Linked DNA regions of Homo sapiens. Changing the gene in region 2 together with the main gene of any one other region gives a genetic interaction. Each region holds a gene or a part of one and is shown on either strand. Other genes may lie near its edges.

Region 1 (3,500 bases), on a different chromosome or scaffold from region 2:
TAAAATTCACATCGTTTCTGATTAATTTTGAGAAGAAAAGCCTCAAGATCTTTCCCACCTCGACACCTAAGCCCTAGGTCTTAGTGGGGGCGACGTCGTAGACAGAAATCCCACATCTAAAAATGTGAGAGCATAGTGGTTAAGGGTATGCATTTTGAGGCCAGGCATCATGGCTCATGCCAGTATTCCCAACACTTCGGAAGGTCGAGGTTGGGGTATGGCTTGCACCCATGAGTTCGAGACCAGCCTGGACAACATGGCGAAACTCCAACTCTACAGAAAATAAAAAATCAAAAATAAATATATTGAAAATTAGAAATTTTTTTAATTAAAAAAAAATTTGCATTTTGGAGACAGGACTGGAGTATCTATTCTACCACTTACTAACCTGCTCCATATCTTAGCCAAGTAAGGCTTTCTTCATCAACAGTGTTAATAACCCAGGGTAGGTGTGAGGATTAAATGACAACCTCCTTAGTGTGATGCTTTTACAAAGTAAACACTGAAAGAGTAGGTTTAATGGTTATCACCCTAAGGTCCCATGGAAGTCTCAGTTGTTCTAATTCAAGATTACCATGTAGCACCCTAGGCAAACAGGTTACATTATTCCCTGATTGTAGCTATCTGGGGATTGTAATCCTCAACCCTTTCTAGAGGTTCTGGGTCCCCACTGTGTTGTATTCACTTAGCAGACCTCTGTGATAACCCCAGTGGTAAACTCAGACTACACCTATGTCAGGTTCTTTGCTATGTTCTGTTAAAGCCAAAAAAAAAAGGACCAAGACAAGGTCCCTGCTATGTGTCCCGAGGAGAATGGAACAGTCACAGAAACAAATCAAGCAGCAGAGCAAATGCACAGTTCAGGGAGGCTACAGAGATTGGGAGCCCTGAAGCAAGGCTGTGTCACAGAAGTGAGGTATGAACACGTAGGGGCTGGACTTGTCAAAGAGCATAGAGGTATTCAAGAGATAAACAGTATGGGTAGGATACCTAACCAATGGTTAAGACTGGATCATAAGGGTCTTGTAATACCATGCTGAATTTGGACTTCACTGTGTAGGCCCAGGGAAACTTTAAACCATGAAGTGACAAGACCAGAAAGATCACTCCAATGGTCTCATGAAAGATGGACTGGCAACAACAGCTCAGGACTGGAAAGTGAGAGCTGAAACATTAGGCCAAGAGCCCAGGCTCACCTCCTCCAGAGGGCCTGCCCTGAGCACCACACAGCCGGGCTGTGCTGTGAAACATCCCTTTCTGCTCTCAGAAGACCTTCCACATACCACATTCATGACGTGAATAGAAATTAACCAAATCCATATTTTGCCTCAACAGAAAAAGGAATCGCTCTATGTTTATGTATTTCCAGAGACAGCACCGAATCTGCCATATAGAGAATGTGCTGAATGGCTCAATGGCTCAATGAGTCATTCTGCTGTTGGGGCAGAAGAATGAGTCCAACCTGAAACTTCATCTGAGATAAATGCCTGTGGGACAATTTGGAGATGTACACCGGAGGACAGTGGGACATGCCATCTGGCAGTCAGGAGAGAAGGTCTAAACGAGAGGTCCAGATTTGGAAGTGAAGACATGGGAAACGTAATCTAGGGCAGTGACAGGGCCTGAGGACAGGTCAGGCAGGCCAATGTGGCAGAAGAGAAGCCAAGGTAAGGAGAAGCTCTAGAAAAGGGATGAACAGAGGACCAATGAGAATGGCAGGCAGAGATCCACAAAGTGATCCAGAAGATTTCTGGTCTCAAGTATGCTGTTTACATAAAAACGAGTTACCAGTTGTTGGTATTAATTCAACTCTTGGGAAATTTATAATAATGTTATTTTATAACATTATTATAGGATAACAAAGCAAGACAGAAATCAATTTAGCACATGCATGTTTATCTCTTTAATTCCTCTGTGAATCTAACATACAGATGACTAGGTCCCATAGGACACAGGAAAAAAAGCAACATGTTGCGAACAAGTGTCAAAATAAAGCACTGAATTAGTCTTTAAGCCTTGCTAACCACTAATTGAAGTAGCTTTGATAAAAACTATTTGAGGCCAGCACAGTGGCTCACACCTGCAATCCCACCACTTAGGGGCAAGCAGTGAGGCTAAGGCAGATCACTTGAGGTCAGGTGTTCAAGACCAGCTTCGCCAACATGATGAAACCCCATCTCTACTACAAATACAAAAATTAGCTGGGCGTGGTGGCAGGCGCCTACAATCCCAGCTACTCGGGAGACTGAGGCACGAGAATCATTTGAACCCAGGAGGCGGAAGTCGCAGTGAGCACTACACTCCAGCCTGGGCTATAGAGCGACACTCAGTCTCAAAAAAAAAAAAAAAAACCTATTTGATAACCATAAATTGATATGCCTTACTTTTTTTTCTTTAAATAGGGAGAGGGTTTCACCATGTTGGCCAGGGTGGTCTCAAACTCCTGACCTCAAGTGATCCACCCACCTTGGCCTCCCAAAGTGCCGGCATTATAGGTGTGAGCCACAGCACCCGGCCAATTGATATACTTTTGATTAAAGCTGTTTACATTAGTCTCTCCCACTAAACTGGGTTCCCAGGCTTACAAGGGCAATGACTGGGGATCTCATTCATTGTCATACTCTGTCTACACGAAATATTCAGCAGGTGTCAAGTCTGCCATTTTCCTTTAAATTAAGAACACAGTTATTTGGTTGGGCTGTATTTGATGGGGGTAGGGGTAAGGAAGGGGAAAAAAACTGAGGGAAAACTGTCCTCTCTTAAATACATAGGACATGAAGAGGAACTGAGTTTGCTTTCATTATAAACTCAAGCCTGCCTCAAAATACCAGATTCTTTTCCCATGTCCTTGTGCTTGCCAAACGCATGAATTTAGACTCACCCACAATGTAAAACTCCAAAACCTTCAATTTGGCCTAACTTAGAATTCATAAATTTGGCTAAGCAAATAATATGCAAGAGTGAATTGTGACATTGTATTTACCCTAACTATGGTGTTTCCAAATACATTTTAAAAGAGCACCTTAACAGTTTTCACTTCAGACAAATCAGATAATAAGGACACCCAGTTGAAGTCACTAATCTATGTTACTAGTTAATAATGGCCCTAGTACTAGAACCATTCAAATTACTTTCTTTAAATATTCAAATTAAACTACCATTCTCCTTAATACACTGATGTTCTCACAAACCAGTACAGCACAACTCAGTATAATTTATGTTTCTGTAGATTCTTTCAAGGGGCCCTATTACTTCACCACAACACTGTCTTAACCACATGAATTAGAGGTATGAACCCTAAGAGTAAGAATGCATTCAGTCTCCAATCTATACTGGATTAGTGCTACATTATAAATTTATTGAAGGTAAAGATCATTTTCTTCCTAGACAAAGCCTTATATTTAAGTTTTAAAGCCTCACAACTTAAACATGTGAAAATTATAAACAGTCCCTTCAACTGTATCATTGCTTAAAACTCCCAAAGTTCAGGAAAACAATAA
Region 2 (3,500 bases):
AGCCACCATGGCCCACCCCCCTCCTCTTCTCAGAGGAACTGAGAACACTTTAGTTCCACTCACAGGCACCATCTTGACATTTATGCCATTGCAGGTACATATATTGATTGTATCCTTGCTTTTCTGTGCATGAGTGACATCCAGTGACTGTCAGTTTCAGTTTACTCAGACACTTCCTACTTCCTCTCATGCTTTATCCATTTCAGACCTTTCATCACTTTCATGATGCTTTGAGATCATTTCTTCAGAACTGAGGTGAGAGTGTGCTGGGGGCAAATTCTCTTTTTTATCATTTAAAAACTTTACTTAGCCCTTTGTATAATCCATTTTTGCTGGGCCTGCTATTCCAGGCTGAGCATGGCTTCCCCTGAGCACAGGCATGCTACTGCTCTACTGTGACGAGCTCCCGTGGCTGCTTTGAAGGTTCTGTCTTCCCACTCAAATTGCTTCTGAGGTTTTTGTCGCTGGCATTCTACAATTTCACTATTATGCTTCTCAGTACATAATTTCTTAAAGCGTATAGACTAAATGACTGCCTGTGAGAGCTGTCCTCCAAGATGGCATCCAATGATCCTCACCTCCTGGTATCCATGCCCCTGTGTCGTCCCCTCTCACACTAAATAGGATGACCAGTGTATCCAAAACGGATACTGTAGAAAGAGAGGAGTGTGACTTCCAAGGTTAAGTCATGGAAGTCATTGCAGCTTTCAGCTCACTCTCTCCACTCACTCACTCTGGGGGAAGCCAGCCCCCATACTGAGGATACTGAAGCTGTCCTATGGGGAGATCCACGTGGTAAGGAGCTGAGCCTCCTGCCAGCCCCTATCATGGACTCGCCAGTCATGTGAGTGAGCTGCCGTGGAAGCAGTCTCCAGCCTTCCTCAAGCTTTGAGATGACTGAAGTGTTGACTGCTATCTCAACTATAAGCTCCTGAGAGATCTCAAACCAAAGCCACCAGCTAAGCAGCTCCCAAATTTCTGACCTACGGAAACTAAGATAAAAATACTTACTGTTTTAAGTTGCTAAGCTCTGGGGAAATTTGTCATGCAGCAATGGATAACCAATACATTGCCAAAGGCTGGGTATGGTGGCTCATGCCTGTGATCCCAGCTCTTAGGAAGGCCAGGAGTTAGAGACCAGCCTAGGTAACATAGTGAGACCCTGTCTGTAATTTTTTTTAAAAAGTAAACTAGTAATACATTTCCAGAATCACTATGTACATTTAAAATGAAATTTTCAAGATTCATGAAGTCTGTTTTTTTAAAAAACACTGAATTGTTTTTGGGAAGCTTGGCATGTTTAAAACGTTAAATCTGGCTGGGCGCAATGGCTCATGCCTATAATCCTAACACTTTGGGACCCCAAAGCTGGAGGATCACATGAGCCCAGTTCAAGACCACACCAGGCAACACAGTAAGACCCCATCTCTGCAAAAATTTTTTTAAAATTAGCTAGGCATGGTGGCATGCCACTGTGGTCCCAGCTACTTGGGAGGCTGAGGTGGGAGGATAGCTGGAGTCCAGGAGGTCCAGGCTGTAGTGAGCTGTGATTAGAGAAGCAGGAGTCTAGGAGAGCCAGGATAACATCATTTTATGTTCAACTCCACCTTGAGACTAATAGAGCACATTCCTTACAGGTCACAACCACGGACCTAAGATGTTTACAGCTAAGGAAGCAGCTTGGTAATGCCTACAAGGACAAACTCATAGAAAAGGAAGTTCAGATGTCCCAACACCCACAATAATATATGCTTTCAAGATAATTATAGTGATGCTTTAATGTACTTGCACACTAAAATGTAAAATAGTTTCCTTTTAATCAATAGAATAATAAATTGTTATGCTGTCAGCCCACCCACACGTAGGCACAGCTTGGTCTTTACATAGATAAGACCTCGATATAAGAAAAACTAAAAACAAAGTAGGTCTGTTCCTCTGCTTGCTTGTTGAGGATGCCCTGCTCTGCAGTGGAGCGGCTTTCAATAAATGATCTCTTCTCACTGCACTCTGCAGCTCGCCTCAAACTCCTTCCTGCATGAGATCCAAAAACCCTCTCTTGGGGTCCAGATGGAGATCCCTTTTCCAGTAACACTGTGATCATACCACTGTACTCCAGCCTGGTGACAGAGCAAGACCCTGTCTCAAAAACACACATATGAAATCTGCCCATCCAATATGATAACCATCTCCATCAGGAGCTCTACATGCTATTCAGTAACATTGTAAAGTGTTCTTCATGAAGGAATTGAACAACAGGTTTCTCTTTTTTTTTTTTTTTTTTTGAGACGGAGTCTCGCTCTGTCGCCCAGGCTGGAGTGCAGTAGCGCAATCTCGTCTCACTGCAAGCTCCGCCTCCCGGGTTCACGCCATTCTCCTGCCTCAGCCTCCCGAGTAGCTGGGACTACAGGCGCCCGCCACCACGCCCGGCTAATTTTTTTGTATTTTTTAGTAGAGACGGGGTTTCACCGTGTTAGCCAGGATGGTCTTGATCTCCAGACCTTGTGATCTGCCCGCCCCAGCCTCCCAAAGTGCTGGGATTACAGGCGTGAGCCACCACACCCGGCCAATAACAGGTTTATTTCTAAGAACTTCATAGTTCCTGTTGCTAAGTTGAATAGTATCCTTTGCTTCCATTCCATTTTCTGCTTTTTACTGTGTTGAAAAGTTGTGAATGGTGATCACATATCCAAACTCCCTCTTTTATCTGTACTCATGTTTCTTAAATTGGATTTTCCAAGTAGGTAACATATTAGATGCAAATAGTGATTGTCATCTTTTCAGATATTTACACATCTCATTTTCTTGATTTACTATAAGGGCTTCGGTTTCCAGAATACTGTTTATTTACTTTTTTGAGACAGTCTCCCTCTGTCGCCCAGGCTGGAGTGTGGTGGCGGAATCTCGGCTCACTGCATCCTCCAACTCCCAGGTTCAAGCAATTCTCCTGCCTCAGCCTCCCAAGTAGCTGGGATTATAGGCACCCACCACCATGCCCAGCTAGTTTTTGTATTTTTAATAGAGACGGGGTTTCATCCCATTTGCCAGGATGGTCTCCAACTCTCGACCTCAGGTGATCCGCCTGCCTCGGCCTCCTGAATTGTTGGGATTACAGGCATGAGCCACCGCACCTGGCGATTTTTCTGACGTCATAGTGGTACCATGCATCCATCTGCTTGCATCTGAAATACTTCCATTGGTGGCCACTGCAAGCTCTTGAGAGCTCCCCTCCGTCAGGCTATGGAGATGTCCATCTCTTCCCATCTTATCCAGAACCTACAGGTTTCTATACTTCGGTTTTTTTTAAATTATACTTTTAAGTTCTAGGGTACATGTGCACAACATGCAGGTTTGTTACATATGTATCCATGTGCCATGTTGGTGTGCTGCACCCATTAACTCGTCATTTAGCATTAGGTGTATCTCCTAATGCTATCCCTCCCCCCTCCCCCCACCCCACAAGAGTCCCCGGTGTGTGATGTTCCCCTTCCTGTGTCCAAGTG

What was found.
Region 1: changes in TEX22 (region 2) and HAPSTR1 together harm fitness less than expected from each alone (positive genetic interaction), as found in Homo sapiens cells (one large-scale study listed by BioGRID).

What each region holds. Positions count from the first base shown.
Region 1 is NC_000016.10:9,105,144-9,108,643, reverse strand, and holds part of HAPSTR1 (HUWE1-associated protein modifying stress responses 1), read right to left. Parts: exon of another isoform or gene 1,880-3,500; intron 274-1,879; coding exon of another isoform or gene 140-273; exon of another isoform or gene 1-139. UniProt on the Homo sapiens protein: Acts as a central player within a network of stress response pathways promoting cellular adaptability. The E3 ligase HUWE1 assists HAPSTR1 in controlling stress signaling and in turn, HUWE1 feeds back to promote the degradation of HAPSTR1.
Region 2 is NC_000014.9:105,401,538-105,405,037, reverse strand, and holds part of TEX22 (testis-expressed protein 22), read right to left. Parts: intron 1-3,500.